Regions from separate parts of the Homo sapiens genome. Here all the other regions are linked to region 4. The links come from fine-mapping of genetic effects on gene expression. A gene starts in region 4. Each other region holds a variant in brackets. All regions are shown on one strand. Distances are from middle to middle.

Region 1 (5,105 bases), 59 kb after region 4:
AGCCCAGGCTGGAGTGCAGTGGCACGATCATGGCTCACTGCCGTCTCAGCCTCCTAGTTTCAAGTGATCCTCCTGCCTTAGTCTCCTAAGTAGCTGGGACTACAGGTGCATGCCAGCATGCCTAATTTTTTTTTTTGGTTGGCGGGGGCGGGTCGTGGGTATTTTTTTGTAGAGATGGGGTTTTGCCATGTTGCCCAGGATGATCTCAAACTCCTGAGCTCAAAAGATCCACCAACCTTGACCTCCCAAAGTGCTGGGATTACAGGTGAGCTACCATGCCTAGCCTTGGCAAACAATGTCTGTGGAGAGCCAGCTACTGAATATTTTTGGCCTTGCTCACCATACAGCTTCTGTTGTAACTACTCAACTCTGCAACTTGTGTAGTGCAAAAATAGCCAATGGGCTGCTAGGGCTGCCATAACAAAGAACCACAGATTAGGTGCCTTAAGCAACAGAAATTTATTTCCTCACAGTTCTGGACGCTGGAAGTCCGACAACAAGATATTGGTAAGGTTGGTTTCTCCTAAGGCCTCTCTCCTTGGCTTGCAGATGGCCATCTTCTCCCTGTGTCTTCACGTGGCCTGCCTTCTGTGTCTGTCTGTCCTAATCTCCCCCTCTTTATCAGGATTAGGGCCCACCTTAATGACCACATTTTAACTTATTCACCTCTCTAAAGACCCTATCTCTATCTCCAGATACAGTCACATTCTAAGGCACTGGAGTTAGGACTTCAGCATATTAGTTTGGGAGGGACACTATAGTTAATAATAATATTGTATTGTGGCCGGGCACAGTGGCTCACACCTATAATCCTAGCACTTTGGGAGGCTGAGACAGGAGGATTGCTTGAAGCCAGAAGTTCGAGACCAGCCTAGGCAACATTGTGAGATTCCCGTCTCTACAAAAGGTATAACATAAATTTAAAAAGAAATTAGCCAGGTGTGGTGGCACAAAACTGTAGTCCTGGCTACTCAGGACACTGAGGTGGGAGGATCGCTTGAGGCCAGGAGTTTGAAGCGGCAGTGTGAGCTGTGACTGTCACTGCACTCCAGCCTGGGCAACAGAGTGAGACCCTGTCTCTAAGAATAATAATAATTATAATAATAATGTACTGTATACTGGAAATTTGCTAAGTGAGCAGTTGTTAGGTATTTCTACCACACACAAAAAGGTAGCTATATGAGATGAGGGAATGTGTTCATTTCACTGTAGAAATCATTTCACTATAGGAATATTTATTCTTTTTTCTCTCTCTTTTGGCCTGATTAAAATTTTTTAAAAAGGAAATCATTTTCCTATGTTTATGTATATCAAAACATCATGTTATATACCTTAAATATATACAATTTAAAAAATTAAGTGTCAAGGAGGAGGATAAAATTCAGCCCATAATACGTATGTAAGTGAATGGGTATGGCTGTGTTCCAGTGAAATCTCCTTTACAAAAACAGGCCCTTGCAAAATAAATAAATACATCATAAATAAATAAATAGGCCTCCAGCCAGATTTGGTGTGTGGGTCCTGGTTTGCAGACCACTGGGTGATACCATCTCCATTCCCTCCCTTCCCACCCTTTCTCATCTGCCTGTCATCAGACTCTTGCTCACATCATGCCACCTAAGGACCTCTCCCCAGGGTCACCTATGACTTCATTGTCACCTGTTCATCTCTGCGTCCTCCTATCTCTGGCCCCTCAGCAGTGTTGGCTCTGCACACATGATTCCTTTGAGAGCTTTTCTCCACTGGATTTCACATGGCCACAATTCCTACATTCCCTCCTGCCTCTCTCGCCCGCTCCTTCCCGGGCATCTTGGCTGGCAACTCCTCCCCTTCCCAGCCACTACGTGTTAGACTTCCTTAAAGCTCAGGGCTGGACTCCCTTCTTTTCTTGCTGTGTAATTTTTTCCAAGATGATCTCATCGACACCTACAATTTCAATTACCTTCTGTAAGCCAATGACTTCCAAATATATAGTTCCAGCCCGTACCTCTCCTCTGAGCTCCTGCCCATGAATCTAATCGCCTCCTTCCCATTTCCTCTTGTCAGTGTCTCTGTAACGTCTGTGTTGTGTGTCCTGGCTGTTTATGATTTGCTTTTCTTTGACAACTATAATCTCCAGGGTAAGTTTAGTTCCCTTCTAAAACCATTTCCTCGGGCCAATCTTCCCTGACCTGCCCTCCCCGCCCCACAGTCTATGCCAGACCCTCTTTCACTTGCTCTCCAAGCACACTGAGTATTTCTTCTGTATTCTTCAGAAATCCTGGTCTCTTACACCTCTTGGGTTCATTGTTCTCAGGTGGACAGTAAATTCCACAGGGCTAAGTCTACCGCCTTTCTCTTAGTATCGGAGCACTTAGCCCAGAGCCTGGCACATACGAGGGCCTCAGTAAATGCATATGGGATGATTGAAAAACTTTAAGTAAACTAATCAAACCCTCTGAGATACTGAGAATTGTTGTTTGATTTTAGTTCAGAGTATTTTGTATTGGGCTGTGCTTGTTTAAGTTGTAACCCTCAAGAAGGTTTCCTCTGTTTTTATATATATATATATTTGCCATCCCTTCTGTTTTCCTAAATTCTACCTAGGTAGAAAACTGAGATGGTTTCAAGAATGAAACACACTCTACTCGACAATTCTTTAGCTCTTGCATTTGACAAAAGGGATCAAGTTCTAGAGGATA[G/A]ACCCTCTAGAGGCAGTAAATGCTCAACTATTTACTAAGTGTGTGACCTTGAGGAAGTTATGTCACCTCCTTTGTTACTCCCTGGGTTCTTCATCTGTAGAATGATGCCACTAACACCTACCTGTGTCACATGTATAGTGTATGCACAGGGTCTGACACAGTGCCTGGCAATAGTAGAGGTCCCCTATTTGTTTAACAGATTTTTTTTTTGTGCACTCAGAAATGGGACAGATACTGTTTCGGGCACTGAGGATACAGCAGTAAATGAATCAGACAGATCCTGCGCTCAGGGGGCTCACATTCTAGGGCAGGGGGGAGGTAAGTGTTGGTGGGGGAAAAGACAGGAAAGATAAAGCCAGATAAGAGCATAAAGATGAATGGGGTAGAAGTGACGGTGTTTTAGCTGTGGGGATCAGAGAAGACTCCCATAAGGTGAACAGGAGTAGGAGTCAAAGATATTCATTCCTCTATTCCTTTGCTCCTCTGCAGGGAGAAATCCTACTTCCCGTGGTTACTAGGGAGAATGCCTCACTCTAACTCATTTCTGTCTGGGTGGGAGCAGTGCCAACAGAAATAAGAGATGGGTTTCAGGAGGCTCTGGCCTTGATAGGCATATGTCATCCCACCCAGGGAGTGCAATGCAAGGTCTTGTTGGTTTCTTTATTCCATAATAGTTGATATGCAAACTAGATTAGGCACTGAGAAATGCTTCTGTGTGGCCGGGCGCGGTGGCTCATGCCTGTAATCCCAGCACTCTGGGAGGCTGAGGCGGGCAGATCACTTGAAGTCAGGAGTTCGAGACCAGACTGGCCAAGATGGCAAAACCCCGTCTCTACTAAAAATACAAAATTAGCTGGATGTGGTGGCACACACCTGTAATCCCAGCTACTCGAGAGGATGAGGCTTGAGAATCTCTTGAACCCGGGAGGCAGATATTGCAGTGAGCCAAGATGGTGCCACTGCATGACAGCCTGGGTGACAGAGCAAGACTCCGTCTCAAAGAAAAAGAGAAAAGAAAAAGAAAAAAAGAAATGCTTCTGTGTAATGGAACTTCTGTTTGGGGAGCAATAGGTAAAAATAAAACCCTAGGAAATCCCCAGGTCTCTCTCAATGGGTTTGAGGTAAGAGTTGGCAGGTTGGTTTCGCCTCTGCTTGCCTGTGGGCAGAAAACCAAATGAATCAAAAGGCAGCCAGAATGGAATAACTAGCACCTTAAGATGACACCAGGAAACCTTGAGGGTTTCGCAGGCCCTCAGGATCTAAGCAGACAGTATGACTAATTTGTCTGTGCCCTAGACTTAGCTGCCTGTCTTCCCACACTTGTGGCTTCTCCTGAAAGAGCAGGAATGGCTGTGTTGAGTTGTTGCCCTGCAAGGTTGGACTTGAATAAAATTCAAAACACTTCACATCTTTGGGACTTAATAGTTTTTCTGAAGTAAGCTCCATACAGTTTCTCCTGTATAGTCAATGGGAGGGAATAAGGAAGAATGGGATATGTCTCCCTCCAAGAACCCAGGCACATTGCGTAGCATTAATAGACCCAAACAAAAGGATTCCCCTTCTTTCTCCAGAATCCCTCTTCAGCTGCACAGCTTGCAGCCACGAGAAGGTGAGTCTCTGTTGTGGAGAGAGACACATTTGGCTGACTAGGGGTACTGAGAATTGTCAACCTATAAATAAAGCATTCAGTCAGAAATTGTTAAACTCAGAAAAGCAGCTGAGAAATTAGTAACGGTGTTACTACGTTAAGATTTAAAGAGCTGGCCAGGCACGGTGGCTCACACCTATAATCTCAGCACTTTGGGAGGCCAAGGCGAGTGGATCACCTGAGGTCAGGAGTTCGAGACCAGCCTGCCCAATGTGGTGAAACCCCGTCTCTACTAAAAATACAAAAATTAGCCAAGTGTGGTGGCACATGCCTGTAATCCCAACTATTCAGGAGGCTGAAGCAGGAGAATCGCTTGAGCCTGGGAAGCAGAGGTTGCAGTGAGCTGAGATTGTGCCACTGCACTCCAGCCTGGGTGACAGAGCAAGAGACCATCTCAAAAAAAAAAGAAAAAAAAAATTAAAGAGCAAAGCAAGGCATGTGCCCGTAGTGCCAGCTACTCTGGAGGCTGACATGGGAGGATGCTTTGAGCCCAAGAGTTTGAGACCAGCCTGGGCAATATAGCAAGACCCTATCTCTAAAACAAAATTAAATTTAAATTTAAAAATATTTATGGAGCTGAGGGTTTTTAGAAGTATTTTACCAACTTACAAATTCTTACAATTTAGCAGCTCCAACACAGGCAGAGGGCAGATACACAAGAATCACTGCCAGTCACGAGGCTGAGGAGAATTTCAACACTGGTATGCATCTGTTCCTGAGGCCAATCCCTTAGCAAGGAAATCAGACACTTCTTTCAGATGCCTAAAAGTATCAAA
Region 2 (5,105 bases), 85 kb before region 4:
GCCTTTAGTTAATGATCATATAGTCAAAATTAGAAGGCTCCTTGGCGTTTGCTTCCTCTGTCTCTCCACTCAAGAATGAGGGAAGATGCTGAGAATTTAGAATTCAAATTTTACTCTCATTGCTTAAATTGTAACTTGGATAACATCTCAAGATTTCAGAGAACCGATTAAAAAATTAATCTATGGGCATTTTAATCACCATCTAAAATATTTTATCTAGGATCACTTATCTTTTTTTATAAAAGCTCAAATCACAACATTCTCTTTTCATCAGTCCCTACAGCCCTGTGTTGGACAAGCACAGATGTCAAAAATACACTTAAATATACGTTGAATTTTTATCCACTAGAATAAAATAAGCAGAATGATATGCATTCTTGGCGATAGTCTTCACTGGAAAATACCACTGTCAGCCCAAACTTACACAACTGACTTCAAAATCAGACTAAGATGTGGCATAAGAAGAGCTATTTCCTACCTTCACTATATATTCAGGATTTGCCAACTCCAAGGCCTTGAAAAACATGTGAATGTTTGAGACTAAGAAAAATTGGGAATGGTAAGCTAGTGGCCACCTTAAGAGTACATGCCCCATTTCAAAAAGATGGATTCAGAATGCAACGTTTTAAAACACTGTGCTGGTCACACAAAACAGAACTGCAGACAGAATTCAGTGTAAGCCTTGAATGTGCAACCCCTATAAGAGCACAATAATTGGACTTTTTAAAACCAAGGTTCACGATACTTGGGTCTTTGCAGATTAAATACCTCAGTGCCCAGTATATCTCTAAAAATAAACAAGTGTTCAAATGCTTGCTAAATGAATTAACAATATAAAAGCTCTCCAAATACTGGATATAATCATCAAATGACCAATACATTTAATTAATGAGTTGTGGAATTGTATGTCCTTTGCTGTGCTGAAGCTGGTTTGCCAAGGCTTGGGAAAGCCACTGGTTGGCTATCTCTTTCATCAAACTGCATTTAATGACATCAGATTGGCAGGTAAAATCACCATGAAGACAGTATTTATACCATAAATATTAGTAAATGCTACAAAACAGGGCCTTTTTTCTTTCATGAAAGATGGTTGTTAAACATTCAGCAGCACAACACTGGATTACATCGTGGTTATATATTCATCTGTTCACAAACAACCACGTGAAAAGTTTAATGTCACTAAGTTTTAAAACATAAAAAGAAAAACTTAACTAATGAGGATGAATACAACAGGTTAAATACAAATTTTAATATCACCTTTTAAAAAATAAATTTTAAAAGTGTATAGGCCACAAACTGTATCAATAAAGGTGGAATGCTTTACAAAATAGGAGTCTGTGATACTTCAGATGAGTCTTCAATCTAAAGCACGCTCCACTAGTTACCATATTAATTTACTTCTAAAGTTAAAAAAAAAAACCAAGAATAAACTGTACTGATTTCATCAAATTATGAAAGGAATTCAAGTGATTAAAGTTTTTTTAGATATACAAGACAAGAACGTTAACTTGTTCAGAATTTCAAAATATTAAGAAAGAATGCATTCATATATAAATGTGATAGCATTTAATCCAAATCTGTTCCCCAGAGCAAAAAGCTGCCACTAGCTTAACCTCTCTATGCTTTGCTTCTTTCATCCTAAAAGTATAGGTCCACTGCAGGGATTGTAAGAGATGAAATATGAAAATTGTTTTACAAATGACTATCTCATACACAGCCCATAATACCACTGCTATTATTACCTTGAAGTAGTGTTAAAAAGTCTGCAATTTCAGTTCTCACTAGCAAACAAAAAAAACCCAGGGAATAGTTATGTTTGCCCTGCAAGTAAATACTGTTCTAGAAATACACAAATTTAAAGTATAGTGGTTCTCAAAGAGTCTGGAGACCCTTAATGGTCCCTACAACCCTTTCTTTGAAAGGCTGTGAAAAGTCAAACTATTTTCATTGTACTACTGAGATATTACATAGTTTTCATTCTCCTGATCTCACAAGTGCACAGTGGAGTTTTCCAGCGTGTGTATGCTGTGTAATTTTTAAGTTGGAATGCAAAAGCAGCATGAAAATCTCACTGCTTTTATTAAGCCAGATTTAAATGCATAAAATGTAAAACAATGTTCCTGTTCTCATTAGTTTTTGTTTTGGAAAAGTTATTTTTATCAAAAATGGTATTTATGTTAGCAAGTTATTAGTTTATTACTGTTATACTTAAATAAA[TAAAC/C]ATGTTTTAAAAATATCTCAGTATTAATTTTAATACAATAAATTCTCAGAGATACAAGCTACATCAACAAAGCTGTTGGGGAGTGTTAAGGTTCTGAAACTAAAATGCTCCAGAGATGTTGGTACAGTGGTAAACCAGCAGCCAGGTCACCCTCTCCATGTTGCCAATTGACAGGAACTGTACTAAAGTGGGTGTGTGTGCAGGGGGGCGGGGAATTTCACAGGTAAAGCACTAATGTGCTTTTACAAATTAACAGAAGGACTTATTTTGAGGAAGAAAGTGATTACCAAAACTCTATTTTCACAAAAATAATAAAATATTCTCTATTTCAAAAAATGGGGAAAAAATGTCTTTAAACTATGTCAAAAGTTTGCCATCCTGAAAAAAGATCTTTCCTGAACAGGGATATCTGCAGATACCTGAACAGGAAAAATGATGTGACTAAACCAGTAAGCCAGGAAATTTGAAGGTCTTCAGCCTTGTTACCTTCCAGGATTTTTTCTCCTTTTTAGTACTCAACATAATTTTGATGGTCTATATAAAACTAGAATAAATCTAAATGTAAAAGTCTAACGAAAGCTGATTTTCTTTAATAATAAACAGTGAATATCATGAGAAAAACCACTTTAAAGCTACCTCTCTTCTTTTTTTCATTTTTTAGAGATGGGATCTCACTCTATCCCCAGGCTGGTGTGCAGTGGTGTGATCGTAGCGCACTGCAGCCTCCAACTCCTGGGCTCAAGTGATGTTCCCACCTCACCTCCAGGTAGCTAGGACTCACAGGCTCTCACACCACCATACCCAGCTTGGGTCTCTTCTTGAACTAAACATTTTTATTTTATAAGCGCTAATTTAAAGTCAGTAAGAGCCCCCATTTAATTACAAACTTCAATAGTTACCCAGAAAAAGAAATAGTCTTTAAAATCATTTTGATAACAACTGTTTAATTTACTATTCAGATGGAAAGCCTGGTAGGATATTTGGGTAATGGTCTGTAATTAGGTAGCATAACTTTGTACACATGAATCAACTGGGACCCGATACAATCTAAAACAGAAATTCAAATATATTTTCCCTCAATGAAAAGGGCTGAGGAAGTCCTCCAAAATGTGGAGACATTTCAAGTCTACATCAACACACATCTGGACCTGTGCAGCATTCATTTAATTCTAAAAGAAGAGGCATACTGCTCAGAAAAGGGGCAGAGATTTCCCAGTCATCTTGCTTATTAAAACGGTTTAGATAAACCACACTTTTAGCTAGATGTACACTAGACAGCAATGTTTTAACAAGTCTAAAACACTATACAGGTTTTAAAATACTATGATAACAACTCAGTCATCATTGCAAAAAGGCATTCAACATGAATAAAATGTTTGAGGAAACTGATGTTTACCTCTTTTAATACCAAAGCTTTTTAAAAAGTTTTAATCAATTTAAGATAAAACTTTTAAAATATGTACTACATATCTGTGTATGCAATTTCACCTTTACTTAATTACCTAGAGGCATAATAAAGAATAATCATCAGATGATGTAGTATAGTGATGTCCTCTAGGCTGGGTAGCGGTCCTTACACTAATGGCCTTGGACAGTGTATGCTCTCAGAGTGTTTTTCAGTCTCCTTCCTTTCAAGCCATCCCTTCTAAACAGCTAATATGCTATAGTCTGGACAAGCAAATAATTAAATTTATTAAAATCTCTCATAAAAACAAATGCATAAGCTCTAACACACAGACTTTGTGACTTATATGGGTTGCTCAGAGGCATTTTTAAAAAAAACGATTCCAAGTTTCTGAGTTGTGTTCGGTTTTCACAAGACTGCCAGATTACCTCTAGATGAATGAGGCATTACTGTACATAGATACTTAAACAAGTTCATTTGAATATTAACAAAAAGATATAACTAAACTTATTATCTTTTCCTTTAAAACAAAGTATTCCGTAACTTTAAGGTAACACTGAGTTCCAGTTTCTTTCCCCCAAAAAACAAACATAAACAAATATCCTATAGATAATATCAGTTTGCCCAAAAAAAGAAAGAAAAAAACTGAGGTGCAATAATGTCACAGTTAATGCATGTCTACTTCCAATACATTCAAAGACAATTTTTTTTAAAAAAAATCAATAGTTAAAATAGGCCTTTTGCAGTCTGAGAATTCAAGATACTTAGAAAAATTTGTAAATACACATACATGCAAATTCTTCATATATACAAATTTCACAAAATTAATAAGCTGCAAAGAAATTAGTAGGATTATGGTAAATCTGACAAGCTACATTTAAATGCTTTACCACTGGCATATTCCTGAATGTAGCAGTCATAGTAGTTTTAATAAATTTTCTACATGGCCTTTTTATAAAAAGTCACTAAGAAGTCTTTTAAGAATTCAAGATGTTCTCAATTCACTACTCATATTTAAGGCCACTTTGGTAAAGGCATTGCAGCAAGAACACAAAAACAATAGCATATTTTATAATATTTATTTTTTTTCACCTGCAAACTGTAGCAAAACATGATCAGCTTTATTATGCAGACAGGTATCCCTCTACATTTTAAAAGAATTTAGGCATGTATAAATAGAAGAGCTCTTTAGAAAGGAAAAATTCAAGAATGAATAAAACCTTCCAATTTTGACTCTGTTACTTTCCAGTAGCAATGGTTAAAATGATTTTAGGTCATTCATTCCAAGATATATGACAGCACCTTAAAAGTGGCTGATCTATTTCCCCAGTAACATTTCTCACATAACAATGTGTTAAAGTTACAAATACTGATATGCACAAATAGCTAATTTCTAAGAAAAATATGTACAGTACTGCAGCATAATGAATGTGGTATCTGCAATAACTTAATATTAGCCAATTTTAATATACATGATAC
Region 3 (5,105 bases), 66 kb after region 4:
CCTCATCCAACACATGGTGGGGTCTTTTTCTCGTTTCTTCTGAGTTGACACACACAAAACCCAAGAGTCCCACTTTTGGCGAGGAACGTGTTGCTGTCAGCTTGCATTTGTTACCGCACATTGGTTCCCCGTGTCCCAGTAATGACCCCCTGTAAAGGCCACTGGGCAAGAGAATTGCAAGATCGAGCGAGGCGGCGGGAATTACAGGAAAGGATTAACGGCAGAACAGCCTGTTGCGACAGCGAAAAACAGCCCGAGGACAGGGGCGTGCTCCCATCTGACAGGCGGAAGTGTGCCAGGGTTTATGTATTAGGTCACAGCAAGAAAGCTATTTTTGCTGTGCCCTCTGACCTTCTGTAGAAGGTGAGCCCCAAGATGCCTATGATACACACCAGACTTTTGCAGGCTGCCCTGACTCAAGAGGGAAGAGCAGATGCTGACTAGTGCAGGGTCCTGTAGAGTTTGGGAATCCACCATTCACAACAGGATGAAAGGATTTTCATGGGTGTTGCCATCTGCTGGGTATGTGTGTTGGCAGCGGGGAGTCATTTACTAAGCAGATGCAGCCTTTCTGTTCCTCCTTCCTCAAACTCCAATTTAAAAAATAGCTAGTCCGGGCACAATGGCTCATGCCTGTAATCCCAGCACTTTGGGAGGCCAAAATGGGAGGATCTCTTGAGCTCAGGAATTTGAGACCAGCCCGGGCAACATAACGAAATCCTGTCTCTACAAAAAATACAAAGATTAGTTGCGTGTGGTTGTGAGCACCTGTAGTCCCAGCTACTTGGGGGACTGAGGTGGAAGGATCACTTGAGCCCAAGAGGTTGAGGCTGCAGTGAGCTGTGACTGCACCACCGCTCTCCAGCCTGGGCAACAGAGTGAGACCCTGTCTCAAAAAAAAAAAAATAAAAAAAATCTAATGGCCAAGTAGGCTTTAGAATTCTAAAAAGCTAGCAACGAAAGGAAACATGGTGCTATTGGCAGAGATTTGAAGTAGCAGTGGTCTCCCACAAAAGTGCTATGATGTACAGAGACTTAGAGGAGTCGCAGTGTAACCCTGGTTAAAGAGATTGGGAAGGTTCCATGGAAGAGGGGCTGAGCATTGTTCAATTTGTTGAGTAAACCCAAAAAGCAGTGCACTGAGATCAGGCCAAGCTAGAGATATCTCTGTGGCAAACACTGAACACTTTTATCACCCCCTTACATTTGGTAGAAGATTGTTGGAATCACCACTCTCCACAAACAGTCAGAAAAACTGGAACCAGATGGCATCTCTAAAAAAATGTGGCCCACAGCCATAAATGTGTGACTTGCATTCTCTTTCAGAACAAGAAAAGATGATGTAGATACTGCTGGTTTGGACTGGCTCAGAGAGAAAAGAAACAAATAGATGGGAGTACGTGCCAAGGGTCACTGATGCTTCCAGAGGGCAGTGGCCTCGGCTGTCTTACTCAAGGCTGAATTCTTAGCCCCTACAAGACTCATGCCTGGCATGTAACAAGTGCACAGCCAGTTTTCCTCCAATGAATGAGGGGCTTTCTCAGAATAAAGTTTTTGTAATCAGAGACCAAGACAGCCACTGATTCTCTGCAGCCTTGAAGTCTGTCTTTTCTGAATATCCAGACAGAGGACAAGTCTTGATTATAACGATCATTAGCCTAGAGTACTGCCCAGTTCTGAACTCAAGGATAAGAATCCCCTCCAAGCTCCTGCCAGGCTGTCTCCACACTCTGACATCACATCCTGCCTCTTTGATTAGGTTTCACAGTGAATTTTGCCCCTCCCAAACACACTTTGTTAATCTTTTTTAGGTCTGGGAATTCAGCCAAAAATTCCTGAAGGATGAATTCCTTTTCCTCGGTGAGGTTGACATTTGAGCACACATCGCCCTCTTGTGTCTACGACACATTTGGCAACGTAGTTTCCAGCACCTGCTAATGCACACAGCAAATTGAAGCCTTGTTAACATCCCTTAAGCCTGCAGACCTCGGTACAAGGCGGAGGGAGAACAAACGCACCAATTTTCCCAGAATAGTCAAGAACATCCAGAAGAATCCAGAATTTGTGAAGATGGTACTGGTAACTACCCAACCCAGAGCTTTGAAAGTTAAAAAATGTATAAGGTACCATAAAATTCATATTCAAGAGCTCACAGTCAGAAAATGTTTACCTTCTAAAAGAGCTGGACATTTTCCATAAACCGAAAGTTGGACTATACAGTAGATACATGAAGATGTCCTCCTAGCATTTTCATATTTGACCTATTGACTTTTGAATCACCATTCATATCCTCTTTGATGTTGCCCATCCACACACCCACACCCACATAAGCCATGTGTGTAAATATGCCCATCTGCAGGTTTTCTGTTCTTAATGACAATTTCAGACTGCTCGGCTTGCTCCTACACCTTCTTATGGAGATACAAGAACTTTGGATCTCTGGCCCCCCTCAGTCCTCGCTCCTCCATCCCTGTAAGCAGGTGCAAGGCGTGTTTCTGGCACAGTCCACCAAACTCCTGAATCTGAAGCTCCCACAGTCACTGACCCAAGTGTGGCCTGGATGAGACTGGTGGCCCAAGCCTCTATTATGCTGTTTTTTTTGTTGTTGTTGTTATTTGTTTGTTTGTTTTGAAATGGAGTCTTGCTCTGTCACCCAGGCTGGAGGCCAGTGGCGCAATCTCGGCTCACTGCAGCCTCTGCCTCCAGGGTTCAAGCAATTCTCCTGCCTCAGCCTCCCTAGTAGCTGGGACTACAGGCGTGCGCCACCACACTCGGCTAATTTTTGTATTGTTTGTAGAGACGGGGTTTCACCATGTTGGCCAGGATGGTCTTGATCTCCTGACCTCATGATCCGCCCGCCTTGGCCTCCCAAAGTGCTGGGATTTCAGGCATGAGCCACCATGCCCAGCCTTATACTGGTTTTTACAGCAAAGAGACTAGAATAAAAGATACTTTCACATTGACACTATAAAAATCGTCCTTTGAACACTTAGTTATGTATTGTTCTGGGTTAGGTAGTATAGATAAAGACATACTTTG[C/T]CCAGTAGGAAGGGACTCCCTTCATCTACGTACATTTTATGCCTCTATCTCTCATACAGGTGGACCTTACCTTCCGAAAACTGCTATCAGGGCCTCTGCAGGAGGCCCTGGCTGTGATAAATGTGCATCTGTAGAGTGCACAACCTGAACATCCTTACCAAGCAGCCCTGACCAATATCTTCCTGCCTAAAGAGTGCCAATGCTGAGAGTATGCCTTTAAAACCCCATTTTGGCCATTTCTCAAGAAGTAAGTGAGACTTGTACTTCCCTATCTCCCCTTAAGGGGAGTCCCCAGTGCATTAGTGGTAGAGCTCTCCCTAAGGACTTTTGTGTGCGTCTCCACCCTCTGTTCTTCTAGGTGCATCCTGTTTTTAATGGGGCATAATCTCTTACCTCAAAAGAGCAAAGCTCCACTGGCAAACCTCTAGACCACATTAGTGATCAGCAAGTAAGGGGGACATTTGGTGCAGCATCACATTTCTGACATCCCTTCATGCTTTTTATGTCTGACTCTGTCATCTCTGCTAAAAGAAGCCTCTCTTTTTATTTCCTTTTTTTCTTCTAGTTTTTTTTTTTGTTTTTTTTTTTTTTTTGTAGACAGGGCCTAGTGGTCTTCCTAGGCTGGTCTCAAACTTCTGGACTCAAGGGATATTCCCACCTCAGCCTCCCAAACTGTTGGGATTACAGGCGTGAGCCATTGGGCCCGGTCCTCTTTTTTTTTTTTTTTTTTTTTCTGAGACGGAGTCTGGCTCTGCCGCCCAGGCTGGAGTGTGGTGGCGCAATCTCGGCTCACTGCAGGCTCCGCCTCCCTGGTTCACACCGTTCTCCTGCCTCACCCGCCCGAGTAGCTGGGACTACAGGCTCCCACCACCACGCCCGGCTAATTTTTTGTATTTTTAGTAGAGACGGGGTTTCACTGTGTTAGCCAGGATGGTCTTGATCTCCTGACCTCGTGATCCGCCCGCCTTGGCCTCCCAAAGTGCTAGGATTATAGGCATGAGCCACTGCGCCCGGCTCCGGCCCTCTTTTTTCTTCTCTTATTCCAATATCACACACCAAAGAAGACTCGGTCCAGCAGCAGGAAATAAATCTGACCCTTGCCTCTAAGGTCTTTCTTTGATCGCAGCAGTGTTCATCTTTGTCTAACTGTAGCATAGGAGGAATATGATTTGCTCTGACCTAAATTATTTTCATACATTTTTTTTCTGATTTCCCATTAAATTGAGGCTAAGGGTAAAGGTCAGGGCCCTCTTGGTTTCTTGGTTTTGGATTGTAAAAGAGATTAGATTAAAAACATAAAATCTAGGCCAGGTGCGGTGACTCACGCCTGTAATTCCAGCACTTTGGGAGGCCGAGGCGGGCAGATCACCAGGTCAGGAGATCAAGACCATCCTGGCTAACACGGTGAAACCCCATCTCTACTAAAAATACAAAAAATTAGCCGGGCGTGGTGGCGGGCGCCTGTAGTCCCAGCTGCTCGGGAGGCTGAGGCAGGAGAATGGCGTGAACCCGGGAGGCGGAGCTTGCAGTGAGCCGAGATTGCGCCACTGCACACCAGCCTGGGCGACAGAGCGAGACTCCTTATCAAAAAAACAAACAAACAAACAAAAAACCCATAAAATCTCACTGAGTTGTCTCTCCAGGCTAGTTCCTACATTGTGAAGCACCCAATTGGATCAGTGTGATTGGCGTTTCCGAGTGATTCCGAAGACACTTCCCTTTGTCTGGGGCATGAGAATGGGTTCTTCTTGGGTGGATAGAGAAGTCTAAACATAACCGGCCGTCACTTGCTTCCACTCTAGTCTGGATCCTGTCACAACACCAAAACTAAATCCAGTCCAAACTGACCTGCCCTCCACCCCCTTCCTGGGTTTCCTCCCACTACTCTGGCTCACCTCTTGTGACTCCAGAAGAGGCTCCTCCTCCTTGTTCGTTTTCTGGGTCCCAGGGCCAACCTTCCAACAGCCTATTTGACATCTCCATGTAGATGACTCACAGGTACTTCCAATTCTGTAGATGACTCACAGGCACTTCCAATTCAACCTGACTGAACCTTTTAAAAATAT
Region 4 (5,105 bases):
AATCAAATACTTTACATGGATTAAAGGACCTGTGTTTAGTAAAAGCAGGACATACATCTTAACCATGTAATAAAAATCAAATACAATTACAATTGTTCTATTGGCTTCATTTTGGAACCAATATTGTCCAACGTAAGTAACAACTTTCTAGCTTAACTCCTTTTTCTGTAAATGAAATGCATGAACCAGGCTACCTCCTTGATATCACCTAGCTCTGTGATTCTGTAGTAATTCGAGAATATTATTAACTGGCAACTTCTCAGAGTGTCTCCCTGGCCACACAGCCTAAAAGTAACCATGAGCACTCTCCTATCAAACAATTTTCATGTTCAGCATAGTACTTGCCCAAGACATTTTTCTTACTTTTGCATCCCCACTGGACTGTAAGAACCAAGAGAACAAGACTTTGCTATATTTACTGGCACACCCCAGGGCCTTACACAACCTAATAGGCACCAAAAAAAATGTCTGCTGAAGAAATAACACTCATGTAATACTAATAATGCCTCTTTGCCCAACTTTAAAAAGCAAATAGTACATACTAGACATGTTCTGCATTTTCTAAGTTTTAAGAAATCAATTTTCCCACATAAAGTATTATGTGCTTTGTATTAATCTTACAAGCAAAGGTTTTAAAAATACTTAGTAACTGCCACGTTGTTAGTAACTTTAAATACAAGATAATAATATAAAAGCATTTTATCAATTCCAAAACCACCTGCAAATTTTCCGAATGAAATTGCACGGCAATAAAAATCTTTATCAAAATAAAGCTTAATGAAGCAAAGAACAACAAACACAAATCATCCCAGTAACTCAGGACGGTAGTGTCTTTCTGAAATCATGGTGACTTGCTAGCTCTCCTCATTTCTGTGTACAGCCAGGGCACTCGGGTATTGATAGCGAGATACAGATAAATCTCACAGATAACTCCATCATATTTAGAATCACACAGCTCCTAGTGGGTACCTTATTGCCATTAAAACTTTCCCCCAACTCCTCAACACTCTCTTCGGACCATAAAACTAAAATCCCACAGCTTCAAATCTGCTCCTCTGCCTCCCCCTCCCGCAATTAATCCTTTCGAACTTTTCCCAGGGGATTCACATCTGCCATCAAGATGCTTTCATCCTGCTACTATTCCTAAGTGCCTGCTTCCTCCCAGTTACGTAGGTACTCTCGACCCAGAAAAAAGGCACGGGCGAGGCAGGCGTCCCTCCCTCCCACCCCAGCTTCTCCCCGACCCCCAGCAGGAGCGCCCAGCAGGTGCCTCGCTCCGCACCGCGGCTCCCGGGCCGCTGAGAGGCGGGGCACACAAAGGACCCGCATGGACCTCCCCCCCGGCCTCCTAGCGTCTTCCCCCACCCCCCACAGCCCGGCGCCCCGGGTAGCTGGAGAGCGAGGGCGGCGGCCGCAGGCTCGACGGAGACCAGGGACGCTCGCCCCGGTCGCCCCCTCCCTGACCCCAACCCCGCCCACGTCCCACCCACGAAGGCTGCCCAGAACGTAAACCCTCGCCCGGCAAAACCGAAAACGCATCCCCAGCCCGGCTGCCCGGGCCCTGCGCATCCAGCCCGCAGCCTCCCACGCCGCGCCCGCCAGCCGGCGCCCAACGGCCGCCCCCGACCGCCTCCCACGGCACCCGGCTCTTTCCCAGCCCCGGAAGGGTCCCGGTCCCGCCGCCCGCTCCCCCACCTCCCGGGAAGGGCCCGACACCCGCCCGGCCGCCCCGCACTCACAGGCTGCCGGAGCAGGAGGTACACACGAAGGAGCCGACCGTCATGTTAACGTAGGTGGGGCCGCGCTGGTCGCAGTCGAAGCACTTTCGGTTGTGCGGGAGGCCGGTCATGTCCCGCAGCATCTTCAGGTGCTTCTCCTCCTGCTTCCGCTTCGCGCTGGCCGCCATGGCCGCGGCGCCAAGGGAGGAGGCCGGCAGGGCCGGGAGCCGGGCAGCGCTGCGCCGGGGGCCCGCGGTCCCACGGGCCGCCCTGGCCGCGGCCGCCGCCCTCCGTCTGCGCGCGCCGCCCGCGCCGGACCCGGCCGCAGCGGCTTGGCTGTACTGGGCTCGACGCGGCCCGGGCGCTGTGGTACGCGGGCTGACGGGCCACACCAACCGGCACAGCCGGGACAACCGCCGCCGCCGCCGCCACCTTCCCGACTTCTCCTGAGGGGAAAAGACGAGGAAGGGGACGGCAAGAGGAGGCCCGCCCTGGGCGGCCGGTAGCCAAGTGTCCGCTGGCGCCCTCTGCTGGCCAGGAGGAGTCACTGCGGCCTCGCTGAGGCATGGGCCGGGTCTGGAGCCAAGTAGGGTAGACACAATGGTGATAATAATATTAATAATAGACAGTATTTATTGAGCGCTTATATATGCAAAGCGTTTCACATGGGTTACCTTCCCCTTCTGTTTAAAACTCTTCAAGGGCTTTCCACTGCTTTGAGTATAATTCCAAATTCCTCACCGTGCCGTAAAAAGTGCTCCATAGTCTAGCCCAGTCTACCTCATTCTTCGTCGTCCTCACTCAGCCACACTGGATTTTGAGTTTTCTGAACACAGCAAGCTCCTTTCTGACTCCTGCAGGACCTTTGCCCTTGCTCTTCTCTCTTTATCTTTGGGCCAGCTAATTTGGGGGGGCTTGGGGTGTCCTGTGCACTGTAGGATACTGGGCGGCGTTCCTAGCCTATACCCACTAGATACAAGAACAAACCCCCCAATTCCCATTGCTGGCAACCAAAAATCCCCAGACATTGCCAAAAGTGGAGGGAACTTTAGGGCGGTGCAGTCACCTGGCTTGAGAACTGCTGCGTGTGGAAACCCGGATCATCCATAGCTGACATCCTCTAAGTCAGGTGGGGCTCAGATGTCACCTCCCCCGCCAGACTGTCCCAGATCAGCCGAGTTAATGTTGCAGCTCACCTTTCTCGAAGTTGCTCTCCATCAAATTGCTGCGTTGTATTTTCGTCTCAGTTCTAGCTATTTGAAATACTGCATCTTATTTCGTGTTTACCATGGGTGATCTGGACTCTCCCTTTAGGCGCTAAACAGCCTGGCCCCCGTATTTTCTGTGCCACTCCACCCCATTCCCCTCGCAGAGCTGGAGACTAGGTGTTCAATGTTGACGGAATGAATACATGAAATCGTTCATGTAATCTTCACAACAACCCTTCGAGGTGAGCGTTATTGTTATTTACATTTTACAAAACAGGAAGATGAAACCCTGAGGGATTAAGTAAATTTACCCAAGGGTACCTATGGCGAAGCTCAATTCCAACCCAGACAGCCAGACTGCAGGACCCAAATCCCCACTGCAACAATCAACTTCGTCTCTCGTTTTCCAAAGGAGTACAGGGAGACCCAGAGAGCTGAAGTTCTCAAATCACTGGGCTGTTGAATGGATTAGAATCTACGTTTCCTAACAGCCAAGACCAACCTCCACATCTCTCATGAAAGGGATTGGGTGAATCAACAAAGTGAGACTTCATATTAATATAATACTACTAATAATAATTAATGTTTTTAATATTAAAAGAAATGGACAGATAGATTGGCCAATGAATGTTTTTAAACTTTTCTATTATGGAAAATATCAAACTACCATGAGCCCATGGACCACTTTCAGCAATGATTAAGCCCATGGCTAATCTTGCTTTATAAATACCTCAACCCTCCATCCCCTCTCCTATTATTTTAAAGCAAATTCTAGGTTTCGTACCATTCATCTAAATGGTACATAGTTCCATTTGTATCCCTAAAAAATAAAAACTTTATCTCTTTCAAACTTAGCCATGATACCGTTAGCATATCTAAAAAGTTAACAATAGGCTGGGCACGATGGCGCACACCTGTAATCCCAGCACTGTGGGAGGCCAAGGCAGGTGGATTACCTGAGGTCAGGAGTTCAGGACCAGCCTGGCCTACATGGCGAAACCGGGTCTCTACTAAAAATATGAAAATTAGCCAGGCATGGTGGCATGCACTTGTAGTCCCAGCTACTTGGGAAGCTGAGGCAGGAGAATCACTTGAACCTGGGAGGCAGAGGTGGCAGTGAGCCAAGATTGTGCCACTGCACTCCAACCTGGGCAATAGAGCAAGACTCCGCCTCAAAAAAAAAAAAGTTAATAACTCCTAAAGATCATCAAATATCGCACTAGTGTTTAAGTTGGCAATTATCAATATTTTAATGAGATTTTTACAGTTTGTTTGAACCCACTCCTTGCAACTGGGTAATATGTCTCATAAGGTTTCTTTGGGTCTCTCCACCATCTCTTTTTTTTTAATTATAATTCATTTGTTTTAGTAATTGGGCACTTTATTCTGTAGAGTTTCTCATAATCTGTATCATTTAACATGTCCCTCTGTTCTATTTCCTAAAAATTGGTAGTTAGATCTAGTTCACTAGTATCCAGTTCAGTATTTTTGCGGGGCAGGCATTCATTTCATTGTGTTCTTCCATCAAGAGGGACATAATTGAGGAGAGGATATCTTTTTCATGATGTTGGTAACCATTGATGATTAATGTCTAGATTCATTAATTCATTAATGATTAGAAAATACTGATATTCTAATTCTGCCATTCTGGCTGGGTGCGGTGACTCACGCCTGTAATCCCAGCAACTTTGGGAGGCTGGGGCAGGAGGATCATCTAAGGTCAGGAGTTCGAGACCAGCCTGGCCAACATGGCGAAACCCCGTCTCTACTAAAAATACAAAAATTAGCTGAGCATGGTGGCAGGCACCTGTAATCCCAGCTACTCGGGAGGCTGGGGCAGGAGAATTGCTTGAACCCAGGAGGTGGAGGTTGCAGTGAGCTGAGATCCCACCACTGCACTCCAGCCTGGGTGACAGAATGAGACTCTGTCTCAAAAAAATAAAAAATAAAAATAAATAAATAAATAAAACTAATTCTACCATTCCTTCATTTATCAGCTCAAATTTTCTATAAAGAAAAAATTTCCCCTCATCTACCATTTTATTTGGTATAGTACATGTCAGAAAGGCAGGATAAATATTTGATTCCTTTCCTTTATTCACAAATTTTCAAAATAATGTATTGGCTTCATTTCACCTTCCAGTGGTGATCAATATATATAGACAGAGATATATAGATA
Region 5 (5,105 bases), 50 kb after region 4:
ATGTGAATCTGACCAGTTACTCCCCTGCATCACACTGTTTATGGTTCCCCAATATTTCATACTTCAGTGCTTTTTAAATATTTCCCCCACTGTCGGAGATCACTCTTCTCCCTCCTGCATCTGCCTGGGAAACATGTTTTTCTCTTTCAAAGCACAGCTGGGTGGCAGCCTCTTCCATGAAGCCTCTTCTGACACCCGCAGCAAGAAATGTGCACCCGCCTCTTGGTCCTGCTGCTCCGTCAGCACATCCATCTCATGACCCTCTGCTGCACTTATCCGTTTATATGACTTTCTCCTTCATTACACTCTGCCAACCAAAATTCCCTAAGCTATATTCTGACCTCAATGCAAATGTCATATTCTCAGAGTTTCCCTGACCTCTCCAAGAAGCCCTCCCACCCCTGCCTGTCATTCTCTATTACCCTATCCTGCCTGTTTCTTTCAGAATGCCCTTCACAATCCGTGATTGTCTGATTTTAGTTTTTGGTAGAAGCCATCTTATTTAACGCAATTGAGACTGGTAGTTGGTAAGTCGGTTAAAAATTAGATGACAAAATTAGGGAATCATAACAAGCGATATATACTATGTATATGAACTATTTTTGTAAAAATATAAATAAATGCTCATTCTTTTTGCCTATGTTTTAACCTAGGCCATCATCCTGAATATGTTGATTGGAATTCAGCATCATCTTTCCTGCATAAACTATAGCCATAAAGCATCATCTACAATTTCTGGTTTCATTTTCTTTAAAGTGGAGCATGAACGTAAGGAGATGTGTAAAGCAAAATTTCAAAAATTGTTCTTATCCTTTACAGTTAGGTCGTGCCCATGCCTAATTTAACAGCATTGTTTAAAAGCAATCCATTATTATCAAATCTTCTGAGGCATGTAATTTAGTTTTTTAAAAACAAACATCTCATTTTGCAGTAATTTTAGATTTACAGATAAATTGCAAAGATAGTACAGAGAGTCCCTGAATACCCGTCACCTAATCCTCCCAATTATTAACACCTACGTTACTCTGGTACATTCGTCAAAACTAAGAAACCAACAATGGCACATTATCATTAACTAAACTCTAGACTTCATTAGTATTTTACCACCGTTTTTTTTTTCTTTTGTTTTTTCTCTTTTTCTGAGATGGAATCTCACTCTGTTGCCAGGCTGGAGTGCAGTGGTGTGATCTTGGCTCACTGCAACTTCCGCCTCCCTGGTTCAAGCGATTCTTCTGCCTCAGCCTCCCGAGTAGCTGGGATTACAGGTGCCCACCACCATGCTCAGCTAATTTTTGTATTTTTAGTAGAGATAGGGTTTCATCATGTTGACCAGGCTGGTCTCACACTCCTGACCTCAGGTGATCTGCCTGCCTCGGCCTCCCAAAGTGCTGGGACCACAGGCATGAGCCACCGTGCCCAGCCTTTGCCACCTTTGTCATTGTTATCTGTCTGCCTCAGGATCCAATCCAAGGTTTCTCCTCACATGTAGTTGTCATATCTGCCCAGTCTCTTCTGGTCTGTGACAGTTTCTCAGTCTTTCCTTGTTTTTCATGACCTTGATAGTCTTGAGACATCCTGGCCAGGTATCCTATAGACTGTCTCCCAATATAGGTTTATCTGAAATTTTTTCCAGATTAGACTGGAGTTATGGGCTTGGGGACAGAATACAAGATAGGTGAAGTGCCCTTCTCAGCCACCTGGTATCTACTTGCATTACTGTTGATAGGAACCTTCCTATAATTAAGTTTTTATAAAAAATAATGCTCATCCTTTTATCACTCACATTTTATTGGTTTACATACTATTTCATTGAATAATGCAATCAGAAATATAAATAAAAATGTCATACACAGGACTGGGGACAAACACAACTGACTCTTGGTTAGTGTGAGTCTCACCTTGGC[G/A]AGGGGCTCCAACATAGGAGCATCCATCGCTGGGTTTTATGATGGAATGGGAAGCACTGGCTACTTCAATACTATAAGTTCATTAAGAAGCAAAATGAGGCTGGGTGCGGTGGGTCACGCCTGTAATCCCAGCACTTTGGGAGGCTGAGGCGGGCAGATCACCTGAGGTCAGGAGTTTGAGACCAGCCTGGCCAACATGGTGAAACCTCATCTCTACTAAAAACACAAAAATTGGCTAGACGTGGTGGTGGGCGCTTGTAATCCCAGCTACTTGGGAGGCTGAAGCAGGAGAATCACTTGAAGCCAGGAGGAGGAGGTTGCAGTGAGCCAAGATCTCACCATTGCACTCCAGCCTGGTCAACAAGATTAAAACTCCATCTAAAACAAAACAAAACAAAACGCCAAATGAGCATTAACCATTTATATTACAGATTGAGAGTTAGTTTGTTTATTTATTTATTTATTTATTTATTTATTTATTTATTTATTTATTTTTGAGATGGAGTCTCGCTCTGTCTACCAGGCTGGAGTACAATGGCACTACCGCCACCAAACCCGGCTAATTTTTGTATTTTTAGTAGAGACGGGGGTTTGCCATGTTGGCCAGGCTGGTCTCGAACTCCTGACCTCAGGTGATCTGCCCGCCTTGGCCTCCCAAAGTGCTGGGATTACAGGTGTAAGCCACCGCGCCCAGCCCAGATTGAGAATTTAAATCTCTCCCTCTGGTAAGTGGAGGTGTGTGGAGAGATTCTATTCTATTGGTTATTGTCTTTCCCTCCTCCCTGTGACCTGGCACTCAGTACAGTGCTTGGCACACAGTGGGAACTCATTACGTATTTCCTGAATGAATAAACAGAGGAAACTTTAGGTATGTGTCAATCACGGTCCAATAAGGAGATAGAAAATGCAACAGTTGGCCCGTCGCTGTGGCTCATCCTTGTAATCCCAGCACTTTGGGAGGCGGAGGAGGGCAGATGAGTTGTGGTCAGGAGTTGGAGACCAGTCTGGCCAACATGGTGAAAACCCGTCTCTACTAAAAATAAATATATGCAAAAATTAGCCAGACATGGTGGGCGCCTGTAGTCCCAGCTACTCGGGAGGGTGAGACAGGAGAATAGCTTGAACCTGGAAGGTGGAGGTTGCAGTGAGCCAAGATAGCACCACTGCACTCCAGTCTGGGTGACAGAGAGACTCCGTCTCAAAAAAAAAAAAAAAGCATGAGTTGTTTGAATAGAGAGGATTTAATTGTTAACTAAGCATAAATTTGCTGATAACATAAAATGCGCTAGGTAACATAAATGGCAAAAAGATAACGCAAAACTACCCTGGAGGTAGAAACTAGAGGAAGCAGTGGGAATTGGGGAGCGAAAGGAAGAGGCTCAAACTATTAAAGCTTAGATGTTTGGAGGAAGAGCCGTGTGGAGCTGAGCACCAGATTCTTAAGGAGGGCTACTGTACGTTCCAGCTGAGGTCTGCGAGGGGCTGTGAGGGGACCAGTTCTACAAGCATTGAAAATATTGCAGACTGGCTTCAGTGGTGGACTCGGGAAGGAACTGGTGCTACTGCTGAGCATGAAATGGTTAATGCTCATTTCACTTCTTAATGAAGCATTGCCTGGGTGCCATTCACAGGAGCAGAAAGTGGTCAGGAAAGAAGAGGGGCTTCCTCCTCCTCCGGCTGTGCGGTCTCTCTCTTGCATCTCCCCATGGGAAGATGGGAAGAGCTTCAGAGGGAGCCAGCTCCAAAGCGAAAATGGGGTTTGCAGAGGCCCAGCCCCCGAATCACAAAGCAGAGTACAGAAGGTGGGGCAGGGGCAAGGTTGGAGTTGAGAAATACAGCTTATTGACTGGCCCAGGCACAACTCAGGTCACAGTCATTGTTAATGCGGTATTTCACTACCTCATTATCCCCTTCAGCCTAAGCTGAACTTTTACTGCACTACTGCAGGGCCTTAGCCTCCATTTCTGGGCTCCATTTTTTTCTGGTGTCTTGGGGAGGCCCCAGATGTGTCTCAGCTATAGTAGGAATGTCTCTGGAGTACAGTTTTCAGCACTGTCCTTGTCTCCAGGCCAGTAACTAGGGCTGTCTGATGACCCTGGCCAGTAGGGCTCATCTCACTCCATCCATTAGGAAGCAGTTCTCTCATCTCTAGGTTCTGTCCTTAAATGTGCCCATACTCAAAGTTATTTGGACCCAAGGTGTAACATGGTTAACCAGACAATTCTTTTAATTTCACATAAGGTCCTTTCCTCCCCAGACCATTGACATGCTTCCATTTTTCTGGCCAGGTCAAGGGTGAGTTCAAGGGCAGGTGACTCCAAATTTAACATTTGTGACAATAGTCACAAATGGAACAGGCCTAAGCTGAACCTTTGCTATCTATCCCAATCCTGGAAGCCCATTCAAACTATGGATCTTGGCCTGGTGTAGTGGCTCATGCCTGTAATCCCAGAACTTTGGGAGGCCAAGGAGAGCAGATCATTTGAAGTCAGGAGTTAAATACCAGCCTGGCCAACATGGTGAAACCCCATCTCTACTAAAAAAAAAAAAAGATATATATTAGCCCGGTGTGGTGGCACATGCCTGTAATCCCAGCTACTCAGGAGGCTGAGGCAGGAGAATCACTTGAACCGGGGAGGCAAAGGTTGCAGTGAGCTGAGATGGCACCATTGCACTCCAGCCTTGGCGACAAGAGTGAAATTCCATCTCGAAATAAATAAATAAATGAATAAAATAATAACAAAAAGCAAACTATGGTTCTATAGATATCTATTTTGACAGTAAAATAAAACACAAGTTGATGAACTTATAAACAGATAGCAAAGTGAAACCAAACACTTTAATATAAAAATACATTAAATATTTGGTTTAATATGTACTTTTAAATATATACAATTTTTTTTTTGAGACAGAGCCTCGCTCTGTTGCCTAGGCTGGAGTGCAGTGGCTGTGATCTCAGCTCACTGCAACCTCTGCCTTCCCAGTTTCAAGCGATTCTCCTACCTTAGCTTCCTGAGTAGCTGGGATCACAGACGTGCACCACCACACCCGGCTAATTTTTGTATTTTTAGTAGAGACGGGATTTCACCATGTTGGCCAGGCTGGTCTTGAACTCCCGACCTTAGGTGATCCACCTTCCTCAGCCTCCCAAAGTGCTGGGATTACAGGCATGAACCACTGCACCCGGCCCACAGATTTTTA

Alleles and levels. Positions count from the first base shown, and alleles are read on the strand shown. Sizes are in standard deviations (SD) of each study's normalised expression. Not every link is listed here.
In carriers of allele A in region 1, the expression in memory regulatory T cells of the gene that starts at base 2,172 in region 4 tends to be higher than with G alone (moderate effect, 0.57 SD a copy in Schmiedel 2018).
As copies of C replace TAAAC in region 2, the expression in monocytes after interferon gamma of the gene that starts at base 2,172 in region 4 goes down (moderate effect, 0.60 SD a copy in Fairfax 2014).

Evidence for each region.
Region 1: its variant is fine-mapped to the expression of AGFG1 in memory regulatory T cells (Schmiedel 2018, PIP 0.94).
Region 2: its variant is fine-mapped to the expression of AGFG1 in monocytes after interferon gamma (Fairfax 2014, PIP 0.95).
Region 3: its variant is fine-mapped to the expression of AGFG1 in fibroblasts (GTEx, PIP 0.97).
Region 5: its variant is fine-mapped to the expression of AGFG1 in fibroblasts (GTEx, PIP above 0.99).

The regions. Positions count from the first base shown.
Region 1 is chr2:227,410,291-227,415,395 of GRCh38, reverse strand. No RefSeq gene overlaps it. Among named protein-coding and RNA genes, the nearest start is that of SCYGR1, 25 kb to the right of the region's middle. RefSeq lists an enhancer at 3,587-3,786. The variant G/A (reference allele first, on the strand shown) is at 2,682.
Region 2 is chr2:227,554,709-227,559,813 of GRCh38, reverse strand. AGFG1 (ArfGAP with FG repeats 1) reads right to left here. Exons shown (of 13, transcript NM_004504.5): 13 at 1-5,105. Among named protein-coding and RNA genes, the nearest start is that of SCYGR2, 42 kb to the left of the region's middle. The variant TAAAC/C (reference allele first, on the strand shown) is at 2,218.
Region 3 is chr2:227,403,061-227,408,165 of GRCh38, reverse strand. No RefSeq gene overlaps it. Among named protein-coding and RNA genes, the nearest start is that of SCYGR1, 18 kb to the right of the region's middle. The variant C/T (reference allele first, on the strand shown) is at 3,040.
Region 4 is chr2:227,469,223-227,474,327 of GRCh38, reverse strand. It overlaps AGFG1 (ArfGAP with FG repeats 1), which reads right to left and starts at 2,172. Exons shown (of 13, transcript NM_004504.5): 1 at 1,740-2,172. The coding sequence starts at 1,906. MIR5703 (microRNA 5703) reads right to left here and starts at 2,196; the gene lies at 2,141-2,196. LOC124907994 (a long non-coding RNA gene) reads left to right here and starts at 2,229. Exons shown (of 2, transcript XR_007088114.1): 1 at 2,229-3,168; 2 at 3,339-3,540. RefSeq lists a silencer at 1,464-2,183 and an enhancer at 2,296-3,259.
Region 5 is chr2:227,418,913-227,424,017 of GRCh38, reverse strand. No RefSeq gene overlaps it. Among named protein-coding and RNA genes, the nearest start is that of SCYGR1, 34 kb to the right of the region's middle. The variant G/A (reference allele first, on the strand shown) is at 1,905.